Homo sapiens: one gene and its partners. The protein of the gene in region 4 purifies or fractionates together with the protein of the main gene of each other region. This does not show direct contact. Each region holds a gene or a part of one and is shown on either strand. Other genes may lie near its edges.

Region 1 (6,070 bases), on a different chromosome or scaffold from region 4:
GAAGTTTTATGCCATGCATAGCCAATAAATTTTTCTCTTCCCTTTAAATTTTTATTTATTTTTTGTAGAGACAGAGTCTCACTGTGTTGTTCAGGGTAGTCTCAGACGCTTGGGCATAAACGATCCATTCTCCTCGGCCTCCCAAAGTGCTAAGGTTCCAGGCGTGAACCACCATGCCCAGCCTGTTCTTTTTTTTATCTCTAGGTGGTGCTCTCCAGCTGTAGTAGAAATAGCATTTGTATTGGATCTATTTTTTTAAATAGGGACTAAATACAGACCATTTTGTTAAAGTGAAATGCCAAACAAGAACGAGATTTTTCTCTTGGCTAAAAAAAATAGAAGCTATTGAGGAATTCAGGATTAAAACTACATGTTAATATAAGCCTCATAATTTAACATAAGCATATTTTAGCATGTTTAGTCCATAGCATACAAAAGTCTAAGTAAAGACGATAAACTGTCTTTAAGCCAGGCACGGTGGCTTACACCTGTAATCCCAACACTTTGGGAGGATGGAGTGGGAGAATCCCTTAATGCCAGAAGTTTGAGACCAGCCTGGGCAACAACAAGACCCTGTCTCTATTTAATATGGTTTTTGTTTGTTTGTTTTAAAGAAACTATCAATATTAAGCAGCTGATATAGTGGAAAAAGCTCTGGTTTGGGAACCAGAAGATAAAATTTTGAATCTTAACTCTGCCACTTACTAGCTGATAATTTTGGGCAAGCTACATAAACTGTCTAAGCTATAATTTCCTCATTTATAAGAGGGGGATAACTTATATATATGATGTCTAAAACCTTGTAAAAAACTTTTTGTGGCCAGGTGTGGTGTCTCGTGTCTGTACTGCCAACACTGTGGGAGGCTGAGGCAGGAGGATTGCTTGTGGCCAGGAGTTCAAGAGCAGCCTGGACAAATGAACAAGATCTGGTCTCTGTATAAAATTTTAAAAATTTAGCGCGTTGTGGTGGCGCATTCCTGTAGTCCCAGCTACTTCAGAGACTGAGGTGGGAGGATTGCTTGAGCCCAGGAAATCGTGGCTGTGGTGAGCTGTGATCATGCTACTGCACTCCAGCCCGGGCAACAGAGTGGACCTTGTCTCAACAACAAAACAACAACAACAAAAACCCAAAAAAACCTTTTGTTACTCTTTATAAAACCGCATTTTAAATATACACAAATTAGGAAATTCAAGTAACATTTTAAAGGTTAAACTGTATTATTACCCTTGCAATGTTGATGGGTTTTTATTAGCAAAGGTTGTTGTGTTTATAATTTCTTTTACCACCTGGATTTAACAAACTTGTATATACATATAATCACATATACATGTATAAAGAGATATATTTATGAATCAGTCTGGTGTAATGGTTGGAAGCTCCGAAGTCAGGCAAACCTGAATAAGAATCCCAGCTCTGCCAGTTACCAGTGATGTGAACTGTTATTTAAATTTGGAATGTGTGTCCTCATCTCTAAAATCAGTTGTTATAAAAATTAAATGACATAATGCATGTCAAGGATTGGCATAATGTGTGGCTCATAGAAAGCTTTTGATAAGTATTTGCAGTTATTATTACCATTGTTCATTTGTGTTAAAAAGTTGACTCAAAAGTTGAAAAAAGCCCCTAACTTCATACTCATTCATTAGAAAACCCACCTGCACTTTGTATGGTGAAGGGAAGTGTGTTGTTGTTGCCCTTGATGGTACTTATCTTCTCTTTTTTTTTTTCGAAACAGTGTTTTACTCTGTCACCCAGGCTGGAGTGAAGTGGTACAATCACAGCTCACAGCAGCCTTGACCTGCTGAACTCAAGCAATCCTCCCACCTCAGCCTCCAAAGTAGCTGGGACTACAGGCACACACCCTCACACCTGGCTCATTTTTTTTATGTTTTGTAGAGATGGGGTCTCACTATGTTGTCCAGGTTAATCTCAAATTCCCAGCCTCAAGTGATCCTCCCACCTCAGCCTCCCAAAGTGTTGGGATTATAGGCATGAGCCACCGTGCCTGGCCCTATCCAATTTTCTTAGCCAAGATTTATTCAATATAAACCTTTTCTGTCACATGAACAGTTTCTGCTTGTGTAAAGAAGTTTTATCTCACTTCTTAGTAAAATATATGGTAGAAGTCAAACCATGGCCTCATTTGGTGGTAATTCTTGCTAACTTAAGAGTGAGCAGAAAGAGATACCATTTTAGACTGAGCATAAAACATTAGTGACATGATAGAAAAAATGCTGCACCATGATTTTCTCACACTTTCCTATAAACGTTGTGGCATGTAGTCAGCGGGCCCCAACATGACTATACTTTTGGCACCTATGTAGCATATTTGTTCTGTTATTTACTGAAGCAAAAAAATAACATTCCTACAGATTTGAAAATGCTGATTTTTTTGTGATGGGTTCTGTTTGTGGTCATAGTAAAATAGTTTTCAAAAATATTATAATCTGGCCGGTCATGGTAGCTTACACCCATAATCCTAGCACTTTGTGAGGCCAAGGAGGGCAGAGCGCTTAAGCCCAGGAATTTGAGACCAGCCTGGGCAACATGGCAAAACCTTGTCCCTACAAAAAACATAAAAATTAGCTGGGCATGGTGGCACATGCCTGTAGTCCTAGCTACACGGGAGGCTGAGGTGGGATGATCACCTGAGCCCAGGGAGGTCAAGGTTTCAGTGAGCTGTGATCATGCCACTGTACTCCAGCCTGGTGACAGTGGGATCCTATCTCAAAACATTTTAAAAAAAGGAAATAAAAAGATTAAAATCTCTTAGTTGTGCATATGCTTTGTTTATTCTTTAAAGTAATACATGTATCCACTACATTTGGCAGAAGACTAGTCTGTCAGGTGACTTTTTTTTTTTTTTTTTTTTTTTTTGAGACAGGGTCTCACTCTATTGCCCAGGCTGGAGGGCAGTGGTGCAATCTCAGCTCACTGCAGCCTTGACCTCCTTGGGCTCAAGAGATCCTCCCACTTCAACTTCCTGAGTAGCTGGAACTGCAGGCATGCACCACCTCACCCAGCTAATATTTTATTTTTATATTTTTCTGTAGAGATGAGGTCTCACTGTTTTGTCCAGGCTGGTCTAGAATTCTTGGGCTCAAGCGATTCTTCTTGAGGATCCCTCTTTTGGGACTTCTTGGCCTCCCAAAGTGCTGGAATTACAGACGTGAACCACCGTGTCTGGCCTGGTTTCTCTTTTTATATCAGTGATAAACCATGGAAATAGAAAGAAATGAATATCCTGATTTTTAAATGGTTCAATATGGGAATCAACTTGACCTTAACCTTTATTAATAATTTTGCCAAATACCAGAGTAGTACTTTTTGCTTCAGAAAGCACTTTCTTATAATTCTTGTTAACCACATTTAGCTGAGGCTCTGAGATATTAAGAGATTAAGTGACTTGCCCACAGCACACAGCTAATAAATGACTGATTTGGGAGTTAAAACATGGGCATGCTGATGCTAGTCTAGTCTGTTCATCCACTATGCTTATTATTTGAAAACTGTTTATGCTGCAGATAGAATAAAATGACAATGTAACTTAACAGAGTTAAATTACTTATAGATTAAAATGCTTCTTTCTGTTTTTAATGCTTTATTACATATGCCTAGTTTTGCTTAAGCTTGTCTAAATTTTATGACGGAACTATAAAAAATGTATTTCACTTTTACGTGACATGTTATTGGTGAATCTTGTGTTTGTATGTTTTTTTCTTTTTGAAAGGAGAGTGCATTTAAAATGCTGAATTGAACAGGACATCTTGAGAGAATGTTTTAATTTGAGCTCATGTATCTGCTGATCGATTCTAAGTGCAGGATATTTTCTGTTTGTCATAGATATTTGAATGGTGGTACTTCCATAAGCATGGCACATCTTTTATTGAGCAAGTATCTGTAAGCCATTTGCAACCACTGATGGGAGGAACAGAGAGCAGCATTTCAGAACCAGGTTCTCCTTCGAGGAACAGAGAAAATGAAACCAGCAGACAGAATTTGTCAGGTGACTACTTTTCTAATGTGTTTTCAGAGCTGTGTATTTAAGATTGAGTTTGGCTCTGGGAGATAGAAAACTCAAAACAGCAGAGTGCTGTGGTGTGCATGTTTGTGTTTCCCCCAAAATTCTAATCACCAATGTGATGTTACGAGGTAGGGTCTTTGGGAGGTGATCAGGTCATGAGGGCAGTGCCCTCAGGGATGTGATGAATGCCCTTATGAGAGACCCCAGAGAGCTGCTTGCCACTTCTACCGTGGGAGGACACCACGAGAAGGCGCCGTCTGTGAACCAGAAAGCAGACCCTCACCAGACACCAAATTTGTTGGTACCTTGGTCATAGACTTCCCAGCCTCCAGAACTGTTAAAAATAAATTTATACTGTTTATAATCTACGCAGTTTGTGATATTTTGTTATAGCAGTCCAAATGGACCAAGACACAGAAATTTGTCTTTCATGTTAATATAGTTAGTCCATGGCTAGTATGGAAAACAATAATCATCAGATACCCAGACCCCTTCTATTTTGTTAGCCTGCCATCTCCAAATGTAGTTTTTACTTTGTCGTGTAAGACTGTTGCTCTTGCTTCAGCCATCATATCCACATTCCAATCAGTAGGAAGGAAAGAAATCCGGGGTAAGGTCACTACTTCCCTCTACTCCACCCCACAGAAGCCAAGGACTATTCTCAGAAATGTTACATACTATTTCACCTTACTTCCTACTGGTCAGGTCTGTTTCATATGGCCATTACTAGCTATAAGGAAGGCTAGAAATTTTCATCATTTTCTCAGTGTATATATATATATACGCCCAGCAAATCAGGGAATCTTATGACTAATAAAGGAGAGAACAGAAACAGCCATCTCTGCCAAGAGAGAAAAGTAGGAAAAAAAATTTTTTTCAGTATACTTAAAAAGGCATCAAAGTCTCAGCTCTTCATGGATGGATATTCCATTGTCATACTTTTATTGTAGACTGTTCCTCTATTTGTGTCGAGTAATCGCAAATTTATTTATTTATTTAGTTAGAGACAGAATCTTGTCTGTTGCCAGGCTGGAGTGCAGTGGTGCGATCTCGGCTCACTGCAACCTCTCCTTCCAAGTTCAAATGATTCTCCTGCCTCAGCCTCCCGAGTAGCTGGGACTACAGGCATGCACCACCATGCCTGGCTAATATTTTGTATTTTTAGTAGAGATGGGGTTTCACCATATTGGCCAGGATGGTCTCAATCTCTTGACCTCATGATCTGCCCACCTTGGCCTCCTAAAGTTCTGGGATTACAGGCGTGAGCCACCATACCCAGCATTTTTTTTTTTTTTTGAGACGAAGTCTCTGTAGCCCAGGCTAGAGTGCAGTGGTGCAATCTCAGCTCACTGCGACCTCTGCCTCCTGGGTTCAAGTGATTCTCCTTCCTCAGCCTCCCAAGTAGCTGAAATAACAGGCATGTACCACTGCACCCAGCTAATTTTTGTATTTTTAGTAGAGATGGGTTTCACCATGTTGGCCAGGCTGGTCTTGAACTCCCGACCTCAGGTGATCTGTCTGCCTCGGCTTCCCAAAGTGCTAGGATTACAGGCGTGAGCCACTGAGCCTGGCCAGCTAGAAAGCAAATATTTTTAATGATACATAATTAGGAAAGGAAAATTTACAAAGCCAAATACAATTATTATTATTATTATTTTAATAGAGATGAGGTCTCAGTATGTTGCCCAGGCTGGTCTCGAACTCCTGGGCTCAAGTGATCCTCCCACCTCAGTCTCCCAAAATGTTGGAATTACAGGTGTGAGCCATCGCTCCTGGGCCAAAATGAATATTTTGGATTATTGTTCCTTTCACTGGGATAGGTAATAACCATATAGTAATAATACAAATGAGTTAATTCCATAATATTCCAAATGCCTCATTTGTTCAATAGCTTACCACTAGAGTTATGATAGTTTAGTAGAAAAATACTGCCTGAGTGCAACTGGTGGCACTTTTTAGATTTGGTCAAAGTCCCTGAGGAAGCACCATTTAAGTGGAGTCCTGAAGCCTGACTAGGAATAGTGGGGTGGGGTTGGCAGCCATTC
Region 2 (4,831 bases), on a different chromosome or scaffold from region 4:
TGCCCAGGTGAAAATGGCCTATGTGAACTTCGTGAACCACTGCTACGTGGACACGGAGGTGGAGATGAAGGAGATCTACACCAGCAACCACATCTGGACGCTCTTTGAGAACTTCACCCTGGACATGGCCCGGGTCTGTCCCTGTGAGGGGTGTGGGTGAAGCCCCCCAGGAGGTGTGGGAGTGGAGGGGCCCCATGTGAGGAGCCCCCAGCCATCCCTCTCTCCTGCCTCAGGTCTGCAGCAAGCGTGAGAAGCGCGTGGCTGACCCCACCTTGGAGAAGTACGTGCTGAGCGTTGTGCTGGACACCATCAACGCCTTCTTCAGCTCCCCATTCTCTGAGAACAGCACTTCCCTGCAGGTGAGCTTCTCCTCTCCCACCACCCCAGGGCCGACTTGCCTAGCTTTTGTGAAGGGAAGGGGGGAAATAAGAATACATATTTATATTTGCTTATAGTACAGAAAGAAGTAACAAAAGGATACATAAGTGTATTGGTTATCTTTTTTTTTTTTTTTTTTGAGATGGAGTTTCACTCTGTCGCCCAGGCTGGAGTGCAGTGGCGCGATCTCTGCTTACTGCAAGCTCTGCCTCCTGGGTTCACGCCATTCTCCTGCCTCAGCCTCCCGAGTAGCTGGGACTACAGGTGCCCGCCACCACGCCCAGCTAATTTTTGCATTTTTAGTAGAGACAGGGTTTCACCGTGTTAGCCAGGATGGTCTCAATCTCCTGACCTCATGATCCGCCCACCTCGGCTTCCCAAAGTGCTGGGATTACAGGTGTGAACCACCGCGCCCGGCCTAAGTATATTAGTTATCTATACCGTGTTAACAAATTATCCCCAAACCTAGCAGTTAAAACAACAAGCATTCGCTATCTCAGTTTCTGTGGGCCAGAATGACGGTGGGAATGGTACCATCCAGCAGGAACTCCTAACTCCAGTGGGTGGGCGGATCCCGGAGTGGCAGCACTTATTCACCAAAGATAAGGCAGACGTGCCATCCATGGGATGGTACAGCCAAAGCAGGGATCACGACAGTCTCCCTGGCAGGATCCTTCGTGCTGGCTAGTTGATCATAGTGATCTTAGAACTGAAATAGGCAGGCAGCCTTCTGAAGGCCTAAGCAGAAGGGCTCCAGGCCAGTGTACAGAAGCCTGATTTGAATCTCGAAAGATTCATGGCTCCTTGGTCAATCCCCAGATTCCCAGACTCGAGCCAGTGCTCAGCCCAGAGCCCCCCTGAATGAAAGCGAGCCAGGTTCCCTTAAGGAAGGGCCCTGCTACATGACCGAAATCAAAGAAACACTGGAAGGATACAAAAGAAACCCACAAAAGGGGCTACCTAGGGGCATAGGAGCTGGGGTGGGGTGGGATCGTGCTTCTAAGTCTGGGGGGAAAAATGCTGAGTCCTGCCTTCTCAGGAAGGGTGGTGTATTTTGACACACATTGTTTGGGCCCTGGGATCGCATTGGGACGATGGAACTCTGGTAATTGATATCAGCTTTCCCCATCCTTGATCAGCTCCAGGGCAATGAGGGTGATGGGGGAGAGACTTCTCAAAGTGTTATGTTTTTTTTTTTTGAGACGGAGTCTCACTTGGTGCCCCAGGCTAGAGTGCAGTAGCACAACCTTGGCTCACTTGCAACCCCTGCCTCCCAGGTTCAAGCAATTCTCCAGCCTCAGCCTCCTGAGTAGCTGGGATTATAGGCACCCGCCACCACGCCCGGCTAATTTTTGTATTTTTAGTAGAGACAGGGTTTCACCATGTTGGCCAGGCTGGTCTCGAACTCCTGACCGCAAGTCATCCACCCACCTTGGCCTCCCAAAGTGCTGACATTACACGTGTGAGCCACTGCGCCCAGCCTCAAAGTGTTATCTTTTAAATAACCTTTTGGTTTTTCAACCATGTAAATCCATCACCTTTTTATGACATTAATTTTTTTAAACATTTTTTAAAAGGGTCAGCAACATGGCTATGAGCCCACGGCCTTGGTGAGTTACAGGGCTGCCGTGTACAGTTGGGCAGGTCGTGCACTGCTGAAGGGAATACAAGTACCTTTTTCCAACTGGCACAGAGGCACATGGTGGCTAGTGAAGGCTCCGTCTCTCCACCCATGCCCATTCTGATTGGGCCCTGGTTCCTGGACCTGGGGTTGCCCAGGGTGGGGGCCTGGGCTGCAGCAGCGGGCTCTGTGACTTCTTGCAGACACACCAGACGATTGTGGTGCAGCTGCTGCAGTCTACCACACGCCTCCTCGAGTGTCCGTGGCTACAGCAGCAGCACAAGGGCTCCGTGGAGGCCTGCATCCGGACCCTCGCCATGGTGGGTGAGTGTGCCGGGGCACTGGCCAGCCCCAAACCACTCCTCCTGCCGCTCACAGTGGGGACGCCTGCCCTCCTAATAAACACTTTATCCCTAAGCTCGCCCATCTCCTGCTCCCAGGTGGTTGTCAGTAAGTTCTTCTTGGCGTCTGCCTCATCCTGGCAATTGAGAGAAGCTGTTTTCTCCTCTGGGTCAGTTCCCCAGAGAAGGATGCTCGCCGACATTCTCCAGCTAGTTTTTTATGGGTATTTGCAGATGGGCTCAGGCAGGAGCAGGCCTGTGGATTGTTAGGGACAGTTGGGGAAGAAGAGAGGACAGGTGAGAGAGAGGAAGGGGAAGTCAGGGTAGAGCCGGGGGGAATCAAAGAGGCAGAAACTCCTTTTACCCAACAAGGGGAAGAAAGCCTCTCAGTCCCTCAAGCATAGGCCGGGGTGGGGGGGGTCTCTGTCTCCCAGACCCTTGGTCTAGTTCACTCTGTCTCCTGGTGTGGCAGCCCTGAGCCTGGCCTCTGGCTGGCTGAACTGCCCCCGCACCAGCACTCCAGCACTCCCTCCCTTCCCACCCAGCCAAGGGCCGGGCCATCTTGCTGCCCATGGACCTGGATGCCCACATCAGCTCGATGCTCAGCAGTGGAGCCAGCTGTGCAGCTGCCGCCCAGCGGAACGCCTCCAGCTACAAGGCAACCACGCGGGCCTTCCCCCGCGTCACCCCCACCGCCAACCAGTGGGACTACAAGAACATCATTGAGAAGCTGCAGGTGGGTGTGGGGCTGCCTGGCATCTGCCTCGGGAGCTGCTTGGTTGAGTCAGCAGCTCCCCTACTTTGGAGGGGCAAGTTCTCGGGGAGTGTTTCTTCCTGTCCTGCCCACACTTCCAGGAAGGGGCTGGTTGGCTTCTCTACACTCTGGGGCTGCTAAGGGCCGACCCAGCAGCAAGGGACTGGGGAACCTCCTTCCAGAGGAAGCCTGGAGAACCCAGAGGCCTGCTAGTGGGGTTGGAGCTCATGAGGGGGTCGGGACCACCCCTCACTCCTGCAGCGCCCTCCTGTCTATGCAGCACATTTCTGTGCGCTGTCTCGTTGGCCTGTAGAGGGGGTGTGGTGGATTATTTTCCCCACGTGGCAGGAGACTGAGGCTCAGAGAGGCTAAGGGGTTTGCCCAAGGTCACACAGAGCTGGGAGAGAAGCCAGGCTTGGCAGCTCCCAGCCAGGGCTCTGAGCAGACAGACATCACGCTGTGTTCAGGGTGTCTCTGTGGGTGTGGGCCCCTCAGACAGAGGCAGGGCAATCTGTGGGGCTGTTTGGCGTTTGGGTCGGAGGAATGGCAGTCACACCCGGGTCATTTCTTGGGCCTGGCAATGACTCTGCCCTGCCCACCCCAGGACATCATCACAGCCCTGGAGGAGCGGCTGAAGCCCCTGGTACAGGCTGAGCTGTCCGTGCTGGTGGATGTCCTGCACTGGCCTGAGCTGCTCTTCCTGGAGGGCAGTGAGGCCTACCAGCGCTGCGAGAGTGGGGGCTTCCTGTCCAAGTGAGCGAGACACTGGGGCATGGGGGCAGCAGGGGTGCAGCGGCAGGGGACAGAGAAGGGCCCGGTGGGGACTAGACAGGCTCACTGGGTCAGAGGGCCTGGGGGTGTTCCTGCCTGGGATGGGGTGGGGAAGTAGCTGGAGGGAGGCAGTGTGGGGCTGCCCTGAGCTGCCTCCTTGGCCGGCTCAGGCTGATCCAGCACACCAAGGACCTCATGGAGTCGGAGGAGAAGCTGTGCATCAAGGTGCTGCGGACCCTGCAGCAGATGCTGCTCAAGAAGACCAAGTACGGGGACCGGGTGAGTGCCCTGGTGGGGCAAGTGCTGGGTGGGCCAGTCAGGAGTACCCAGGGGCTCAGGGTCAAGCCCGTCAGGCCAGTGGTCAGTGGTGGGCTGTACCCACAATGGGGCCTCACTCCCATCCTCCCCCAGGGCAACCAGCTGCGCAAGATGCTGCTGCAAAACTACCTCCAGAACCGGAAGTCCACCTCGCGGGGGGACCTTCCCGACCCCATAGGCACTGGTCAGTATCACCTTCCCCTGCCCCCGGGCCCTCCCTTCCACTCTCCTGTCACACCAGCTCTCCCTCAACCGAGTCCCGCCTCCAGGCCTGGACCCAGACTGGTCGGCAATCGCAGCCACCCAGTGCCGGCTGGACAAGGAGGGGGCCACCAAGTTGGTATGCGACCTCATCACCAGCACCAAGAACGAGAAGATCTTCCAGGAGAGCATCGGCCTGGCCATCCACCTGCTGGATGGTGGCAACACAGAGATCCAGGTGTGGGGGGCCTGGGGCCTGGACATGCCCTCCTTTGCCTCCCTCCCTTTTTGGAGGAGGTGGGCCTTGAGTTGGGCACTGAAGGCCGAGGAGGGTGTGAAAGAGGAGAGGCCTGAGCAGTGGCTGAGAGGTGAGAAGAGTGGGCATGATGGGGGCAGGGTGGTGAGGAGACGGGCTCAGGCCTGGCTGGGGCAGAGGGGTATGCGGGG
Region 3 (6,070 bases), on a different chromosome or scaffold from region 4:
AGAGGAAGAATCAGAGGGTTTAGTAAATTGCTTTCATTATCTATGGTTTCATAGCTATTAAATTGCAGAGTCAGGATTTGAAACCAAGTCATCCGTTCTGCAACATTCGTACACTGTATGTTGGTGATGGGCCTACAGACTGGATGAGTACTCGGGAGTAGATTTCTTTATACCTACAAACTTTATTAAAAGCTTTTTGATTGAAGACACACTTTCACTTTTTAAAATTTAAATTTTTGTTTTATTTTTAAGAACAATCTCAGACCAAAAAAAGGCACAGTTTCAAATTTGCACATTCATGATTTTTCTGGAAGGATTGCAGAATAGTTGGCACATTTTGGGATCAAGTAGCTTGGGATTTTCTTCAGATTTGCAACCATAAATCTTGTCGTATGAGAAAATACTGGAAAGTTACTAAGGTGCTTAACAAAGCAAAGGGTTTGACAGTCATCAGAATGGTGGGATTTGACTTCGAATGCTATTTTCTGTTTATCGCTCTGGCATTCTTGAATGGATTTAGTGACTCCCTGGAGGTCCAGCTTGGTAAATGTCATATGCTTGCTGTTGACATTCTAGTATTGGGGTATAGATACCTGTTCTTACTGGCGAGCCAATGTTGATCGCAGTAGTCATTACATGGGTTATGTTTTTCGCAGAGGCAGGGAAGGTGAGGGAAGGCAGAGAAACAAACTTAGTCATAAATGTTTTTGAATATTTGTTTATTCTGCCCTTTGGCTCCCGAAAGGGAGTACGTGTGCCTAAATGGAAAAAGTTCTGCAGATTAAAGTTGGCAGGGCAACTTTCAAGTACTAGTGCTGGAGTCTACATAAGAGGAAACAGATGCAACTGAAGATTGGACCTAAAAGCATACCTTTATTTGATTTGGAGGAAAAACCAAAGAGGGAGGTTTCCTGGGATTACAGATCCTGAGTTTACATTCCCTGAATATCTTTTTCCCTCACTCCCCTCCCGACTAGCCCCCATTGCTCCCACCCTGTTTTTTTTTTTTTTTTTCCTGTTCTTTCTTTCTGTGCAACACTAACTTTCCTATTTAGAGGTCAAACTTGAACTTGGAGACCCAAACCTAGACTTGAATTCTAGCTTCCCTACAGATTTCATAGGCTTATTGTGAAGGGTAAATGAGAATACTTATTCTCTGTAAAACAGATAGTACATAAGTGCTTGATAACTTGTTATTATTATAGTATTATTAGCCTTAGTAGCACTGTGCTCTGATTACCTGAGCTAATTGCCAGGGTAGGGTTTAGAAGAAAGAGTTGATATCTGGGTGACTACATTGTCAGATAACTGAGATTACCATTGCTACTTGCAACTGAGAGTGTTGAGCTTTAAAACTAATTTTTTGTTGTTGTTGGTTTTGGTTGGTTGAATTGAGGATAATTTATTTCTTTCAGTTTCAGAAAAATTTGTCAGATTTACATAACAAAATTTATAAGTTTAGAATGCATGGGTAAACGGATTTGAATAGATCAGTTTCAGTGCCATTAAAAGCTATTTGTAGATAAGGATAAGTTAAATGTATATTTTAAAAACAGTGCATCCTTTATTTCATTTCCCTTCTTGTCACTCTTAGCAAAACAACATGTAGCAATTCATATGCATGTCATCTGGGATGGATTGAGATTAAGGTTAGGGAGGCAGGGTGAGCAAAGCCCTCACTGGGCTTGGTGGAGAGTATGACATAACACTATTCATTTGCCCATTTATCCACCACAAATACTGTTGAGTGCTAACTATAGACCTTATAATAGTCCAATGGGATGACAAACAGTAACAAAATGAATAAACTGTGCTATGGTAAGTGGTGAGAACAGGAAGTATTTGGTCCTATGAGAATTTGTGAGGGAAAGTTCTAGAGCTGTGCTGGGGAAGCAGTGCCTCAGCTGAGATCTGGCGGTTGAGTGTAAGTGAGCAAGCTGGAGTGACAGGAAGGGCAGAGGGAAGAATGTTCTTGGCAGAAGGAAAAGCAGTTGCTAAATTCCTAGGGCAGGAAAGGGCAGGGCCCTCATGAAACGAGGGCTGAGTGACGAGCCAGGAAAGCTCAGATATGAGTGCCATGGAACTGGAGAGGCAAGAAGGGCAATGAGCAGGGCCTTCAGCCTTTATCCTGGAGCAGTGGAAAGCAGTTGAGGTGATTTTAAGCAGAAGGGTAACACTGTTGTGTTTGCAACTGTAAGCCGAATTTCTTGTTTCTATGACTTCCCTAGAGTTATTGCCGGCCCTCTTTGGGAAAACATTGTTACACAGAGATAGATCAGTCTAGGTATTCAGATAAACTCAGTTAAAATTGCCTTTTTTAAAATGTCAATTGGCTGGGCGCAGTGGCTCATGCCTGTAATTCCAACACTTTGGGAGGCTGAAGTGGGCGGATCACTTGAGGCCAGGAGTTTCAGACCAGCCTGGCCAACATGGCAAAACCACATCTCTACTAAAAATACAAAAATTAGCCAAGTGTGGTGGTATGCACCTGTAGTCCCCGCTACTCGGGAGGCTGAGGCACCAGAATAGCTTGAACCCAGGAGGCGGAGGTTGCAGTGAGCCGAGATTGCACCACTGCGCTCCAGAGTGGGCAACTGAGCAACACTCTGTCTCAAAAAAAAAAAAAATTTAATGAATACAATAAAATGGGAATTTATGCTTTTTGTAAGGGATGCTACTTTTGTGCACTTCTTAGTTATCATCTCTCAGAGACCATTTCTGTCTGGGGGAAAAGTCTGATCACTGTGGTATGGGAAGTTCTTCTCTTACAGGGACTGAGTGATGGGGTTATTGAAACACTGAAACTAGGTTATTGCGTTGTCATGGTAACTCCATAATACCATGGTGTGGTAGTTGAGAAGCTTGCCACAAATCTGTATCAGAAAGAACGCTTTGTTTTATTTGTCGATTTTTGTCTACAAAACAATGCGTTTGCCCTATCTCTAACTGGCAATTCCAGGAAAACTATCCAGTTTCTGGAAAGTTATCTTTGCCACCATTTAGTGAAGTTATTTCCATTTAAATAACCTAGTCATTGTGGAAGAGAGGAAGGGCTAGACAGTTTAAGAACTTGAACAATTGGTGCCTCTCAAGAGTATTACATTGGGAAACAGTATAGCTAACAAACAGATTGGCTTTGGAGTCAGTGGGCAAGCTGTGCTGTTACTAAGCTGGTTGACCTTAGGCAAAAATAGTTAACCTCTGAGCATAACTTCTTTCATTTTTTAGGGGGATGATACTTTTCGGGATTATTATGACAATTAAATGAGATGTAAATGAGGTTCTAGTATAGTCCTTACTGTATTTTTATGAATATTAAGTAACATATATTTAAGAGCATCATTTGTTTGTATAGATTACTCTTATTGGATGAAAAGGGATTGTTGAAACTAAGAAATAATTGTAGTTCACTCAGCAGGTATACACTTGAAAATCTAAAATTATGAACAGACCAATTAGGAGATGACTAGTGCTACTGCAGAAGAATTCCTTGCTTGGGTAAAAGATTTACTAAGCAGTTCCTTTATATATAGATCCCCTTAGTGAGTAAATCTAAGATAGGAAGGACTTCAAAAAATTTGGTTATTTATAATTTTTCAATTACATTTGTAAAAACCTTAGAGTTATCTTTAAGTCTTCACCACATGCAGCCTTTTAGGAAATCCCGTTGACTCTGAACTTCAAAATATCCAGAATCTAGTGAGTTCTAAGCCACCACAGACTCTTGTCTCTCTAATAACAAGTTTCTTATCTCTCTGCTTCCACCTTGGCTCTCCTGCAGTTGATTCTCACACAGCAGCCACAGTGATCCTTGACAAGCTTTGGTCAGATTATGTGATGCTCTGCCTAGATCTCTCTAGTGGTTTCTCACCCACTCAGATTAAAACTCAGTATTTGTCTCGTGGCTTTGAATAAGGCTTTATTTTATTTTATTCTATTTTATATTTATGTTTATTTTTATTTTTTGAAGCTGGGTCCTGCTCTGTCACCCAGGCTGGAGGGCTGTGGTGTGATCTCAGCTCACTGCAGCCTCTGCCTCTCAGGTTCAAGTGATTCTCCTGCCTCAGCCCCCCAAGTAGCTGGGACTACAGGCGAGTGCCACCACACCCTGATAATTTTTTTGTATTTTTATTAGAGACGGGGTTTCACCATACTGACCAGGCTGGTTTTGAACTCCTGACCTCAGGTGATCCACCTGCCTCAGCCTCCCAAAGTGCTGGGATTACAGGTGTGAGCCACCGCACCCGGCCTGAACAAGGCTTTAAACCACCTGCTTCCTGCTTCCATTGACCTCTGACCTCATCTCCACTACTCTTACTCCGTTCCACCCACATACACCTCTTGCTGTTCCTTGAACAACCTTGGCATTGTTGCTTTGGGGCCTTTGCTTTTTCCTCTTCACGGAATGCTCTTCCCCCAGATATCCATGTGACTGACCCTTCTTACTCTCCTTCAAGTCTTTGCAGAAATATCACCTTTTCAATGGAACCGCCCCTCCTACCTATAAACTCACAGTCGTTTCTCCCTCACTCCCACTCCTATCCATTACCCTGCCCCACTTTTCCTTTTTGTCATAGCACTTGTCACCATCTCCCCTACTGTATACTTTGCTCATTTATGATGTTTCTGTTAGAATGTGAGCACTGTAAGGCAAGGATCTTTGTCTTTTAATCTCAAGCACCTAGAACAATGTCTGTACACAGTAAGTGCCAATGTACCTTTGTTGAATTAATGGAAATATCTGTTAAGTAAGGTATTCATACATATATATATATATATATATATATATATATATATATATATATATTTTTTTTTTTTTTTTTCTGAGACAGGGTCTCACTATATTGCCCAGGCTGGCCTCAAACTCCTGGGCTCAAGCAATCCTCCTGCCTTAGCCTCCTGAGTTGCTGGGACTATAGGCATGTGTCCCAGCTGTGTCTGGCTTCCAGTCTTTTTAATATTAAGGGATAATGATTTTTGTGAATTATCTTCTCTTTTTACATTCTCTTATCAGCTACAAATCTAACAAATATTAGCGGTTTCCCAACCTCTAAGAATGAAATTATTTAATCTAAAAATATAGAGTAACCTCAGGACGAAGTTCTCCTAATACAGACTCTGGAACTAGATTACCTACTTTTGAATCCCAGCTCAGCTAGTTACAGTGTTATCACCTTAACTTCTGTGTGCCTCAGTTTCCTCATCTGTAAAATTGGGATAATTATAGATTGGAAATACTGATTAAATGGGGCTAACTGATTTAATGTGTGTGGAATACTTAGACTACTGAGAACACTACCTGACATTTCAATGTTAAATACTATAGAAATGATAGCAGATATTATCTGATGGGATGATTCTGATTTTATCCACATGCATCTTTTCCCGACTTTCCCTCAAATTTCTAAAGACACTGCATATTCCCTTCTAGATGATTATCAAAGTCGTCAATTTTAGTATGTCTAAAATTTAGCTTTTCTACTCTCCCCAGCGTGTTCTGGACTTCCTTATTTTTGCTAATTATGTCATCGTCTTGCTAGTCATGAAGCTCCAAATCAGAGATGGCAAATTCTGATGCCTCAGGCAGGTCAAGTAAAATGAGTGAAGTGGACCAGGTGTAATGCATGTCAAGACACTGTCCAGGTAACCAGGCATGGTCTCTAGTAGCAGCCTTCAGCAACACTGGCACAGTCCTCTCAGATTTTCACCAGCAGCCCAAATCTAGATTTTCATATAGAAAGTTTCTTAATTGTTTAGAGTTGATGCAAATTTCTCAGGTTTACTCTGTGGACCAAATAAATTATGTCAGTGGCTAGATGCATCAAGTAGCCAGTTTGCTCCCTCATCTCTAAGTCTTAGAATCATGCTTTCCTTTGCACATCTAGACAGGAAATTGCCAAATCTTGCTGAATCTACCACTACAGTCTCTCTCGCATCCATACCTTCCTCTATGTTCTCCTAATATATTGCCTCCCTACCAAATCTTACACTCACTCTGGCGCAAGTTTAATCTACCAGTGAAGCCTCCAATCAAGTTACCCCTTCCTTATACCTTACACATACAGGTCAG
Region 4 (6,070 bases):
GATCAAAAGTGTGAGCCACCGAGCCTGGGTCAGCAGTGAGTTTTTAAGGTTGCCTTACAGAGTACCACTTGATAGTTGACCCCTGATCATTTAGCATTTTGTAAGTGTAAAAAAAAAAAAACTTACCTGAAGTATTCTCAATGGTCTTTTTTTCAAACATTCTTCCCTACACCAAGGGCAGAGAAACCTTTAGAAATTACACATACGTGGCCAGGCGCGGTGTCTCGCGCCTGTAATCCCAGCACTTTGGGAGGCCGAGGCGAGCGGATCACGATGTCAAGAGATCCTGGCCAACATGGTGAAACCCCGTCTCTACTAAAAATACAAAAATTAGCCGGGCGTGGTGGCGGGCTCCTGTAGTCCCAGCTACTCGGGAGGCTGAGGCAGGAGAATCGCTTGAACGCGGGAGGCTGAGGTTGCAGTGAGCCGAGATCGCGCCACTGCACTCCATCCTGACGACAGAACGAGAATCTGTCTCAAAAGAAAAAAAAAATTACACATGTGTGTCTCGCCTGTGTTTGGTTCCTGTGTTGGTGCCTCTGGATATTTGTCAAACTAGAGTTCCTACATTCCTTATCAGGTTATTTCTGTCGAATCTCTAGCACTTTTAAGTGACGTATAATCTTGTAGGCAAGTGAATGAAGTCAGTGAGTATATGTCACATTGACTTACTCCTGACTCACATGCAGCTTGTCTTTAGATGGGCAGATAAGATGCTGGCCCTACTGGAGCGACTGTGGTTGTGCCGTCCTGAGCACCCTTCCTCCAGTGGCCCCGGTTTTCAAGGCTTTGACACAATGGACCTAAAGTCTCCTTTTTCAAGCTTGGCTGCATATCCACAGTGCTTTTGTGCATGATGTTACGTTGTTCTGGAGGTTTCATTTTGTAATTCCAGTTACCTTTGATGAAAGAAATTAGTAAAAACTTTTTGGATGTGAGTAATTGCAGAAGCCATGTGGCTGCTGAGTTTCTACGTAAGCCTTGGGGTAAAAAGACACTGAGATTCTCTCCTTTGTTCCAGGAAGTCCCGGAATTTCCTATTTTTCTATTTTCTCTGTGTGTTTTATTTTTTTTCCTTCCCTGAAAGCTTTGGAAATGCCTGAGGAGAGGTGAGTTGAACTTGTCTTAGCTGTCTGGTTACTCCGGTTAGTTGGAGGCTAGTTCTCACCCACAGCTGCTTATCAGATTAAAGAGGGCATGTCCTGTGTGACAGTGCTCCAGATTGCATCCTGTCTTCCCAGGGAACACATACTTAGAGCTGTGATTAAAGAGAGTTTGAGATGCTATGTGGAGCAGCTCTGGGGCAGGCATGGCTAGTTTTTATCATATCAAAACATGGCTAGTTTTATCATGATTCCTTGGCGGTTGTTAATAATATTAACCAAACACTGTAGCTTCCATTTACTGAGAGCCTATATGATGTGCCAAGCAGTATGCTAAATGCCTTACCTTCATTATCTCATTATAAACTTCACAAGGCAAAGCACTTCCCCTGCCACACCCGCCCCAAAAAAGAGTGGCAGTTTGATATGGTTCAACCTAATGCCTTTTACGTATGAGGAAGCTGAGACTGAAACTTTATGTAAGTCCAGGGCTGTCTGACTCTGGAACTTGTGCTTGTTTGCTGTCTGAAGATACTGCTCAATAAGATGTAGCCAGCTGAGCAATAGCAAAGCCAGTTTCTCTGCAAACTTCTATCAGTTACACTGCACAGTTTCCAAGATGGATGGGGTTCAGTTTTTGTGAATCTTAAACAGTTCAAAACCGAGTATTAGTAACTCTTCTTTTCATATTTTACAGGATACCATGAAATAGATTACATCCCATGTTCTATACATTTAATAACCTTGTTTTTGGGTTTAATGTAAACAACCTTTAGTGGCCACTACAACATGTAAGACCCTGCGCACTACTAACAGTAATAAGATATGATTCCTGACTGAAAGGAATTCATTCTTTAAAAATGTATTTTTAATTTTTATAGATGTATAATAGTTGTACATATTTATGGGGTACCTGTGGTATTTTTATACAAATATGTACAATGTGTAATGATCAAATCTGGGCAGTTTTTTGAGACAAGGTCTTGTTCTGTCACCGAGGCTGGAGTGCAGTGGTGCGATCTTGGCTCACTGCAACCTCTGCCCCCCAGGTTCAAGCAATTCTCATGCCTCAGCCTCCCGAGTAGCTGGGATCACAGGCGTGTGCCACCACGTCTGGCTAATTTTTGTATTTTTAGTAAAGATGGCGTTTCACCATGTTGGCCAGGCTGGTCTCAAACTCCTGGCTTCAAGTGATCCACCCACCTTGGCATCCCAAAATGCTGTGATTACAGGCGTGAATCACAGCACTGGCCTGAATCTAGGGTTTAAAAAAAAAAAAAAAAACGCTGCAACAGAGCCTCCAAATAACATGAAAAAATAAATCCAGTAAGATATTACTTTATATGCTTGGAACTAAGTGCTTAACATTCTGTGATTAATAATAATAAAATTTTGAGGGTGAAGCAATTGAGCACAGTATCTACATATTCTAAAACTGAACTGTAGTCACTTGTGGATTCTGTAAATATTTGGCACCAATAAACATTAATTTTTGGCTGGGCGTGCTACCTCACGCCTATAATCCTAGCACTTTGGGAGGCCTAGGTGGGTAAATTCCTTGACCCCAGGAGTTGGAGACCAGCTTGGGCAAGATGGTGAAACCCATCTCTACAAAAAATAAAACATTTAACTGAGCTTAGTGGTGCACACCTGTAGTCACAGCAGGAAGACTGATTGAGCCTGGGAGGTCGAGGCTGCAGTGAGCCAAGGGTGCACCACTGCACTCCAGCCTGGGTGACAGAACAAGACCCTGTCTCAAAAAATAAATTTTAAAAATTTATAAACATTAATTTGAGCAATATCTGTTTTTCAAGAAGGAAATTTGTGGTGTAGTGAGAGTGTTTAGCAGTTGACATGCCAGTCATGCCACTTAGGTCAGTGTAGGTGCCTCCGGAGTAGGCACCGTCAGGAAACTGAGCGACTGGGTGGTAGATGAGAATGGGCATTGACCGGGCATTGAAGCTCAGTTTGCATATCGAGAGAGGAAGCAAGTATTGGCTTTATTTTTCTTGTTAAAGTAATTCATACTTGAAAGAATTGAAACTGTGAAACTGTGTCCTAGGGAGGGTGATGGTCTGGTTTTGCCAGTCCAGCTTCTCACTGATAACCACTCTAATGTTAGCTTTGATGTGGCTTTTTCTCTATTCCGAAACTCTGAATCAGAGAAATTTAGCAGTAGAAGGAAGTGAAGAAATAAAGTCACAGTTGTTAACCTAAAATAATTTAAAAGGTCAAAATCGAGTTTAAAGAGAGTTTAAGTGTAAAGGTTGAGGACAGGCCACCTGGGAAAGGACAGATTTAAAAGCATGGAAGTCAGTGCTCGTCAGTATAGACATTTGGGATTGTTTATATAGACAAAATTTAGGGACATTTAACAGAATTTTAATATCTTAATGTAAGGCTTAATGTACAGTTATAATGATCTGATTAGTCAAGGTGCGTTTTTTAGGGAAGAAAGAATGTAACTGTCATGAGACCCCTGTTTGGGGCACCATCTGGTCTGAGTTAGGTACAGGACAATAAAGGAGGCAGTTAATCTGTAATAAAAATCAGCAATTAGAAGGAGGAGATCTGGTCTCTTTTAAAAAAAAGACTTAGTCTTTTTTTAGTTGTTTATAGAACAAGAACAATGAGGAAGAGTTAAGCTAAAAATCTAAGAAACAGAATTGTAAACATGTTACGTGACCCAGATCATAGTCATATCTCTTTCAAGGCTTAAGGTGCTTTGGAGGTTCTAAAAACGTTTGAATTTTATTTACTTTTACACAGTTGTTGTAACAGAATTGGAACTAAAATTCAGGGCTCCTCATGTCCAAGCAACAACTGCTTGGGCTTCAGTTTAGAGCCTGTATGGTTGGACAGAATCAGCAGCACTGTTTAGTTCTGGATAATCACTGACTGTGAACAACAAAAGTTGGAGAACAGAAGTCCTTGATTTTGGAATTCATTTTCAGGACTGAGGTATTATGTCATCTCCCCAAGTAGGAAATTTTGTTTCCTGTTTATCTTCTGGAGTTATAAATCAGACCAGCCTCTTTCCAAACTGAAGTGATGGTACAATACCTCATTTTTGAGCCACTAGCACCTGCAGTTGCTTTTTTACTCCAATTTTATGAGAAACTATGGCAGAAGTTGTGCTGTCGAAGCCCCCAACAAGCAGGTCAAATGGCATTAGTAGATCTCCATTTGACAGCCTGGCTTTTGTTGGGATTTCCATGGGACAAGAAAATGCAGTGCCCTTCCCTTTTCCTCTCAACACCGCTGAGAATATCTGCTGTCAAATGATGCAAATAAAATAATATGGACATGCAATACTTAAATATCCTGGATCTCTGAGCTCTTGGAAATGTACATGAAGCAATATCTTAAGAGTATAATCACAGGCCGGGTGCAGTGGCTCACACCTGTAATCCCAGCACTTTGGGAGGCTGAAGTGGGTGTATCACGAGGTCAGGAGATCAAGACCATCCTGGCTAACACAGTGAAACCCCATCTCTACTAAAAACAGAAAAAATTAGCCGGGTGTGGTGGGGGGCGCCTGTAGTCCCAGCTACTCGGGAGACTGAGGCAAGAGAATGACGAGAACCCGGGAGGCAGAGCTTGCAGTGAGCCGAGATCGCGTTGCTGCACTCCAGCCTGGGCGACAGAGCAAGACTCCGTCTCAAAAAAAGAAAAAAAAAAGTCTCAAAAAAAAAAAAGAATATAATCACATAGTAGTCAAATATTTATATATAATATATATTATATATATGTTGTACAGTATAATTTATTCGCATTACCATTGATTGCACCTTGAAGGACATAGAAACAAATGCAATGCATTTTTTTAAGTACAAAATAATAAACGGCCTAAATGTATAGCATAGAGGAAAATGTGAGTAGGAATAATTACAATGCATTTGTTGATAGACTTAACTTACAAAGCACTTTCACCTCTGTTCATTTGTTTTAACCTTCACAGCTCTGTGAGGTAATTAGAGGTTGGAAATCTTGACACAGGGGATAACATTTGGGTTATCTTTGAGCAGATGCAAGTAGTTCTCAGTGCCCTTAGGACTTTTGAAACAGCTACAGCACCTCTAATTTTAAGAGAGGAAACCTGATGAAATAAAAACCTAAATTGACTCCGTGGCCCACCCCTAGCTTATTTGAGGCTCTTCAGTTCAGTTGGCAGCTCATTTAACTGTTCTTTTGAATGAAAATACTGCAATTAGAGCTGTTTCTGTGAGTTTCCTGGTGTGCACCTTCGTAATAGTTACTTGAAACCAGTCATTAAAAGTTCCATATATCAGGCGATTAGTCCGTGTAAAGCTGATGAAAGCTGCCTTTCATCTGTTTGCGTAGGTTTCTTCCATGAGTGGTAATTTTCTTGCAGCCAGTTCAGATGATTTTCAAAGGTATTAAGACGTCTATACTCAAAATACCTGATTAGTGATGATATTGAATAAAACTTTTTTCAGCTCAATAAGTTACATAAATGCAGAACTTTATTTTAATTATTCATATATATTTAATTGAATATATATTCCTTAATTTCTCTTTAGGTGTCTTATAAGACTTTGACACTTCCTGTTTTGTCTGAAAAAAATGTGAATTACCTGTGATATTTGGACTCCAGTGTGGCTGGGCTATCTCCCCTCATACCTATAGAATTAGGTACTACCATTTTTCTCTAGTTTAGAGTGTAGGAAGGAAAGTTTCTTATCCTCCCTTTTCTCTTCATAAGGAAATGCAGCATCAGAGTGATTCTATATTCCAAGCAGTTCAAAGAATTCTGAACCATAAGCTGAGCTTAGTTTCAGGTGGACAAATAGTTTTTCAAGCACCAGAATTTTCATTATTTCAAGTAGTTTTAGTATAGCTATAAATGTTCTATAGCCTAAATGTCTTTTACTTTTCAAATTACAACACTGTAAGTATGGTAAGTCACTTTTATTTAAACAGATATCTATTAGGTCCTATTGTGT
Region 5 (6,749 bases), on a different chromosome or scaffold from region 4:
GGATCAATTGCATCTACCATCCATTTGATAGTAAAGTATGTCACTGCACCAAATATTGTCAAACGGAAAATTAAACCAACAACTTCATTCCGACTCAAAGGACGAGAAAAGGCTTCAGCATGTACCATCTTGAATGTTAACCTTAAAAAAACAAACAGAAATGTCACTAGGTAATAACTATACTTATTAAAATTGTAAGACTAACAAAGTAGCTTAAACTAAGAAAGAAAAACTAACTTCTAGTCAAATTAAAATATTACCTACCTTAAAAAAAGTGTTTCATTTTAAGGAGAAATGGATTTTTAAATGTTAAGTAAACAAATACATTTAAAGCTCCTCTTGCAAACTAGAAGTAGACTAGAAATTAAGATTTATTTGGTAGTAGAATTAATCATTTTATTTGAAAAATACAGTAAATATCTTAAGGTATTTACTCAAAACAGCTTTAAAGAACTATTTCAGAGTCTAGGAAAGTATCAACTATAACACTAATCCAACTGAAGAAAGGCAGCCCAACAATACTAATGTGACGGTAAGAATTTCTTCTATTAACTGTATCATATACCAGGTAATTTTTGAGTGAAATTCAAATTGTGAACTGACTCACTTTTTCCTCATACATACTTTTAAAGGTTTTCAAGGCCTGCTTAAATTTAAACATGCCATTTCCTCAGTAATAAGTGGTATTAACTTTTTTGAGCCACACTATTGTTCCCAACAACCGGGCTAAGTAGGAAGCAATAGAACTTGGAAAAATCTTGAACTGAGACAACTACTACAAGAATACAGCACTCACCCAAGCTAAAGAGAAAAAAAATGAGATAAATGTGCCTATTTTTGCATATATCCCTGAACAGCTACATCAATCAAAGCTAGGCTTACAGAAGACATACACTCCTCTGTCAATGGCAATAACTACCCGGAAGAATAAGCTTGTTAGGGATGATATGACTATCACATTTTGGGAGATAGGATCTTAGCTTCAAATACTGCCATTATACTCTCAGCACAGGAGTGTGCTGAATGCTATGGGATATATAAGAAAAAGAGAATATATATTTGTACTTACATAAACATGAAAAAAAACAGAATTTGTATGGCTCAGCAGATAAAAGTTAGGTACTGCAAAGATTAATATCCATGGTCCTTCCAGCTCTAAAATTCTCCTCTCACTACTACTAAATTAAAGAGCCTCTTCACCTTCCTCCCTCTAGAATAGCTCCAAAAATTTTTTATTTCCTTTTATACCCCTCACCTCCACTCAAGGATATATACTCCTTCTCTCTAATCAAAAGACCCCAAAGTATTTCCTTTATACGTTTCCCAAGCATTCAAAACTATTCTAATCTAGAATCTAGCTCCAGAGTCAATTGTAAGCATTTTCTCTTTCACCTCTTTTCAAAGGGACTCTATAAATAGCTGGAGTCACTACCATCTGAAAATCCCACATATATTTTCCCTTCAGCGTATCTGTCTAGTATCCTGCATGGGCCATTTACCCTCATTCACCTAGGATTAGTCAAATTCTATCCTAACTTCAAAAATCAACTTTATTTGCTCCATAAAGCCTTTCAAATCACATGAATCTTCGTATTATTCATTTCGCCCTATTACACTATCTTAAAAAAGTCTTGCTTTTGAGATATCTACTCGACTAGAGTTTAAATCCTTATAAACAAGATGTATATCTTATCTACCTTTATAACTGTCACACACAAAACAGACGTTTATAATTGCCACACACAAAACAGAGGCTATTCAAAAATTATGTTCAACAGATAAATTGTAACTGAAGGAAATCTCCCATTCAATCATTGCAACAGTCACTTCTGAAGGATTTCCAAAAGGTTCCACATTTCTCCACTAGGAGCCATTCACTTCACAATAATTAGATTTAATTTAAACTTAACAACTAAATAATTGAAAGCCTTCATTTTGGAGGAAGAAACTTTGGCCTAGGGATGGTAAATGATTTAATTCATTCAATTTGCATTTACTGAACATCTATATATGACGCCCACTATATATTGGATATACAATAATTGTTAAGATATCACCACTTCATTCAAAGAACACACTGTCCGGCTATTATATTAATTATAAAGAAAGCAAAAGAAGCCAAAAAGGAGAAGGCACCTAACTGAAATCTCTCTTCATGGAACAAACCAAAGTGTGCTATCTTCCATCAGCATGGATTCCAAAAAAAACGGGTTACACAATATTTCACTTCTCATAGGAAGTAAAAAACTGACTTTTCTAGTCTTTATTCCACAAAGTTGAAAATGCAGTTGAAACGTGTTATATCACTACGTGGGGTATACTCACAGAGGAAAATAATTTAGACAAGATAAGGGTTTTATTAACCTAATCTGTGAAAAGCGGTGGCATTCCAGTAAAACGTTTTCGTTTTAGAGTTGGTAGTGATAAAACTACCAACCAAGTCATCTACTGGATATTCATTGAACTACATGAACAAATTAGGGCTGTTATGAACACATCCCAGTCATCAAGATAGTAACAACTTTTAATCCCATAAAAGGTCAACACACAAAACCCGTTTATATCCTTCCCAATTCTGAAATTTTTAATGTAATAAAGACTTAGGTCTACTAAGGCCACTTGTAAAATAGTAGTCTACCTTTTTAAATTACTTCAAAATCCTTCAATGAAACTGAAACTTGTTTTGTAGACTGTAACTATATATACTTTATTGTACACTCATGTATCATTCATTTGGTATTGATATACCTAAAATGTAAGGCTGTTACAGCAGCAATACCATCACCAGCGAACATACAATAAAAGCTGCATGCGCATACAACAGCAGGGAGCGTATTTCAATCCTGTATAAACATTAGGTTCAACAAAATGAATACACAAATATGTACATATACGATGATAGTGCTGTATGCAACTAAGAAACATCCTAAAACACTATAACCTAGAGTTATTTGTTAGGCAAATATGGTATCAGGTCGTTTCATTTTAAGTTCTCCATTTCCGAGTGGAAAACCGTGAAATCGTACTACCTCATCTATGAGCAATTTATTGACATGTATAGCATTCATAGCATAGCATTCACTGTAGTATTTCTCTCCTAATTCATTGCAGTATTTCACAAATCGTTTCTCAAACTCAAAAGTCCCAGTTTTGCAGGCATAAAGGCCCTACGAATACAGCCTATGACAATGAAGGCCTGCCAATCTTCACAAAGAGGGCAGGTTATTATTAACATCACCATCTTTTGTGAAAGCGTGCCCGGCCCTGAAGAACCACCTTCGATTTTGCACAAGGTGGTGGCCGCGCCTGTGCGACAATCAGACCTGGTTCATTCCAGCCGCCTTCGTCTAGGTTCGCCTGGTTCTGAAGTCTTCCGGGACGACCTCAAACCCCCACAGTGACCAGGATGCCGACAAAGATTCCCTCGGGAATGGCACGAGTCTTGGGGAAGAGCTAAGCAGACCCTAAGGGCCCAGGCCGGGCCGGACGCCAAGGCGAGGCCCGGGACGCCCTTGGAGGTTAATCCTCTAGATACTAAGGGCTGCGGGGCGCTTGGGGGCGGCACTGAGGTAGGGCGTGGGAGAAGACCGGGGTGACCTTTCCTCCGGGGGTTCCCAGGTCCGAGACGGTCCTTAAAGGACCTCAGAAGGATACGACAACCATCCCATGAGGCCCCACGGGAACCAGCTACTCACCCAGGGGCAGAAACAGCAAGAGCAAGTGCCCTCAGCCGGCCTCACACAGGAAGGAAACGCAACCTGGGAGAGAACGCTTCCGGCGGGAGGCGCGGCGCACTCCCTCCCACGGAGCATGCGCGACCCGCGGTCGCCGGCGCGGAGGGGGCGTGCTCCCAGGCTTAGAAACAGTGAGGGAGAGCAAATTCGCGCACCTGATGTCTGCTTAAGCTACCTGCTAGACTGAGACTTTCTGCGAAGCCGGCGTGTCTGCGAGCAGCACTCGCTAAGGCTCTGCGTTTAACAGACACTACCTTTGGGAAGGCGCTTATCACAAAAAGTCCCTGCCCTTCTCGCGGGCTCGGGGCGCAACCCTGACAAATCGGGCAGCCTTCTTGAGAGTGCAGAAATGCTCTGCGTACCCAGCAAATACATTCTCTCCTTCCCACCACTCTGTGCAAACCCTCACGCCGCGGCTTTGTGTCTGTACTTTAGCCAAAACGCAGAAGCTTATGGCCACCCTCCACTCCTCACCCCTCATCCCTCACCACCTGCCTTTCAATTCTCGGGTGAGCTCACCCTTCTCCCCCATCTCTGTGCTGACAAACACCTCGGGGTGGCGCCTGACAATCTTTCCGCGAAAAGATTTAGCAGCCCACGCCACCAGACTCGGTAGTTAGGACGGAATAGGGCATCTGGTAACAGATTTTGCATTTTGGTGATTTCCCTTTTTCTTTCACCCCTTTTCCTTTCCAGAACGAGCGACGTGACACAAGAGGTCCCAAGGGAGCAAACCTGAAAGCCAGAGCCTCCTGAATACACAAACTGCCGGTGGGCCAGATGACATTAGACACTCCTGAGATACGAGAAGCATCACTTCCTTCAGACAGAGTCGGTGAGACTATGATGTAATGAGAGTTCTCCCTGTGTTCCTCAGGAAGGCAGCTTGTGCCTTTCTACTTGAGGCATCATCTTTGATGGCTAAAGAATTCTGCAGCTTGGCCAGCGCGGTGGCTTACGCCTGTAATCCCAACACTTTGGGAGGCCGAAGCGAGAGGATCACTTGAGGTCAGGAATTCGAGACCAGCCTGGACAACATAATGAGAAATCGTCTCTACAAAAAAAAAAAAAAAAAAAAAAAAAAAACCACCTAAAAATTAGCTGGATTTGGTGGCGCATGTCTGTAGTCCCAGCTACTTGGGAGGCTGAGGTGGGAGAATCGCTTGAGCGTGGGAGATCACGGCTGCAGTGATCAAGCCACTCCACTCCAGCCTGGGCGACAGAGCAAGCCCCTGTCTCAATAATAATAACAATTTTGCAGCCTGATTGTTAACGAATGTTACTAGTTACAAACTTGTAATAATGTGGTGAAGATAATACCTAGTTAATGTCTGCTGGGGTGGGGCAATAAGCTTCTATGTGCTTTACATGCATAACCTAAATATCTCCCCCAAAATCCTCTAAAATAGCTATCATTTTCTCCGTTTTTACAAATGAGCAAATTTTAAAGCTTAAACCTTAGAGAAACTTTTCTAAGTTCATATACTTGGGAAATAAAGGCAACAATTTCATTGGAACATAGGTCTGTCTAATTCATACCTTGTACTTTACGTTTTCTCTTTGAGATGGTAATTTAATACCAGCTAAACTTTAAAATCTAGTTGAAAGTAAGACCATGAAATGCCAAAATCACAAGGCTTTAAAGGATGGGATGAAAGGGATGCATGAATGTTGAAAACTATGATTAAGTTCATGGACAGGAATCAGAATGGAATTGAATACACCCGTGCCTGTTTAGTATTTAAGGCTTTATATACGTGCATGCCTACATTCCTAATTTAAAAAAAAAATGGATGTGAAGCTAGGTTTGGGATTACTAGACTATTTAGAGAGATAGACCTTTGAGAAGAACGGAAAGATTATGAGACGAGGACAATGTTCATTAAAAACAAACAACAACAACAACAACAAAAAACAGAGGCTATCAGTGCTCAGCAGACTTTCAAGAGACTCTCCACTGGGTCCTTGGATGATCCCAAGCTGAATCATTGCTTGGGAGGCTCATGGACACATGGTTTGGCAGGGCTAAAAGGGGGAGGGTCACTAAAGGCAAGAAACAGGTTTTGTGCCCCAATAGGGTAATTATATCCACTGGTAAGGAAAATGAGCTGAGAAATTCAAGATAGTAATGGATTTTCATTCATTTACTGAGTGAAATTGGTTCAACTAAGAGCCTCACCTGCCCTCTTCTAAGGACCAGGGTGACCAGCCTACCCAGTTTCAGTTTGCATGAGACTAAAAGGTTTGCTGGGATATAAAACTGGCTGACAAAGTCTCAGGCAAATCATGAGTCACTCTACTAGAGACATCCTAAATGAATCCTACAATGAAATGGAGTTCCCAGTATGGTTACATCTAGTCTCAATTCATCTGCCTAATATTTGAGGGATGATTGCACAGGAAGGGAAACTGTTGAATAAAGTCACGAGGCTGACCATAAAGAGTCTACAAGCTCGAAAAGTGCTACACCTCACTCCCTTTCCAGTGGTTCAGCCACTGGAAACCAAATGCCTACACCTATATGTTTTGGACCTAATATTTTCATTTAGCAAATCCGTAAGAAACCTTCCATGTCTGGGCCTAAGACATCAAGTACATTCATTTTCAGCAATCATCAAATCAATGAGATTCTTCCAGAATACAGCAGAGTGAACATATGCTTTTCATTCCAGGATAGCTTTATATAATCCCTGGCAACACAAAATACCATATTTGGCCCACAGTAGGGGCTCAATAAATAATTCAATATATATAATATTAATCAGGAAATTAGAGCAGACTGTAGACTTTCTGGGCCTTTGCTCTTTGTTAGAATCAAGATATTAAAAAGAATTATTACTTTATTCTAGAAAGTTTTTGGGTTTTGTGTGTGTGTGTTTTCTGTATCAGTAACTCTTAAAATAGTTATGGCAGTTCTCCTCCAAGGTGCTGAATTTTCCACTTTTGTTATTAAATGGAGTGTAGCTAGTTTGCTCTGCAATCAAGGTTAATGCACTAGACACCTGGTGGGAAGAA

Evidence for each region.
Region 1: the proteins of RNF170 (region 4) and ST7L purify together in Homo sapiens (affinity purification with mass spectrometry; 2 studies listed by BioGRID and IntAct, with this or other methods). This does not show direct contact.
Region 2: the proteins of RNF170 (region 4) and ITPR3 purify together in Homo sapiens (affinity purification with mass spectrometry, with the first as the bait; one large-scale study listed by BioGRID). This does not show direct contact.
Region 3: the proteins of RNF170 (region 4) and HSD17B12 purify together in Homo sapiens (affinity purification with mass spectrometry, with the first as the bait; one large-scale study listed by BioGRID). This does not show direct contact.
Region 5: the proteins of RNF170 (region 4) and ATAD1 purify together in Homo sapiens (affinity purification with mass spectrometry, with the first as the bait; one large-scale study listed by BioGRID). This does not show direct contact.

The regions. Positions count from the first base shown.
Region 1 is NC_000001.11:112,608,778-112,614,847, reverse strand, and holds part of ST7L (suppressor of tumorigenicity 7 protein-like), read left to right. Parts: intron 1-3,844; coding exon 3,845-4,007; intron 4,008-6,070.
Region 2 is NC_000006.12:33,680,322-33,685,152, forward strand, and holds part of ITPR3 (inositol 1,4,5-trisphosphate-gated calcium channel ITPR3), read left to right. Parts: intron 1-7; coding exon 8-133; intron 134-233; coding exon 234-359; intron 360-2,202; coding exon 2,203-2,323; intron 2,324-2,885; coding exon 2,886-3,076; intron 3,077-3,698; coding exon 3,699-3,847; intron 3,848-4,035; coding exon 4,036-4,144; intron 4,145-4,276; coding exon 4,277-4,367; intron 4,368-4,452; coding exon 4,453-4,622; intron 4,623-4,831.
Region 3 is NC_000011.10:43,685,599-43,691,668, forward strand, and holds part of HSD17B12 (very-long-chain 3-oxoacyl-CoA reductase), read left to right. Parts: intron 1-6,070. UniProt on the Homo sapiens protein: Catalyzes the second of the four reactions of the long-chain fatty acids elongation cycle. This endoplasmic reticulum-bound enzymatic process, allows the addition of two carbons to the chain of long- and very long-chain fatty acids/VLCFAs per cycle.
Region 4 is NC_000008.11:42,888,992-42,895,061, reverse strand, and holds part of RNF170 (E3 ubiquitin-protein ligase RNF170), read left to right. Parts: exon of another isoform or gene 1-1,095; coding exon of another isoform or gene 1,096-1,109; intron 1,110-5,647; exon of another isoform or gene 5,648-5,759; intron 5,760-6,070. UniProt on the Homo sapiens protein: E3 ubiquitin-protein ligase that plays an essential role in stimulus-induced inositol 1,4,5-trisphosphate receptor type 1 (ITPR1) ubiquitination and degradation via the endoplasmic reticulum-associated degradation (ERAD) pathway.
Region 5 is NC_000010.11:87,814,472-87,821,220, forward strand, and holds the start of ATAD1 (outer mitochondrial transmembrane helix translocase), read right to left. Parts: upstream 3,756-6,749; 5' UTR 3,696-3,755; exon of another isoform or gene 3,324-3,695; intron 142-3,323; 5' UTR 129-141; coding exon 1-128. UniProt on the Homo sapiens protein: Outer mitochondrial translocase required to remove mislocalized tail-anchored transmembrane proteins on mitochondria.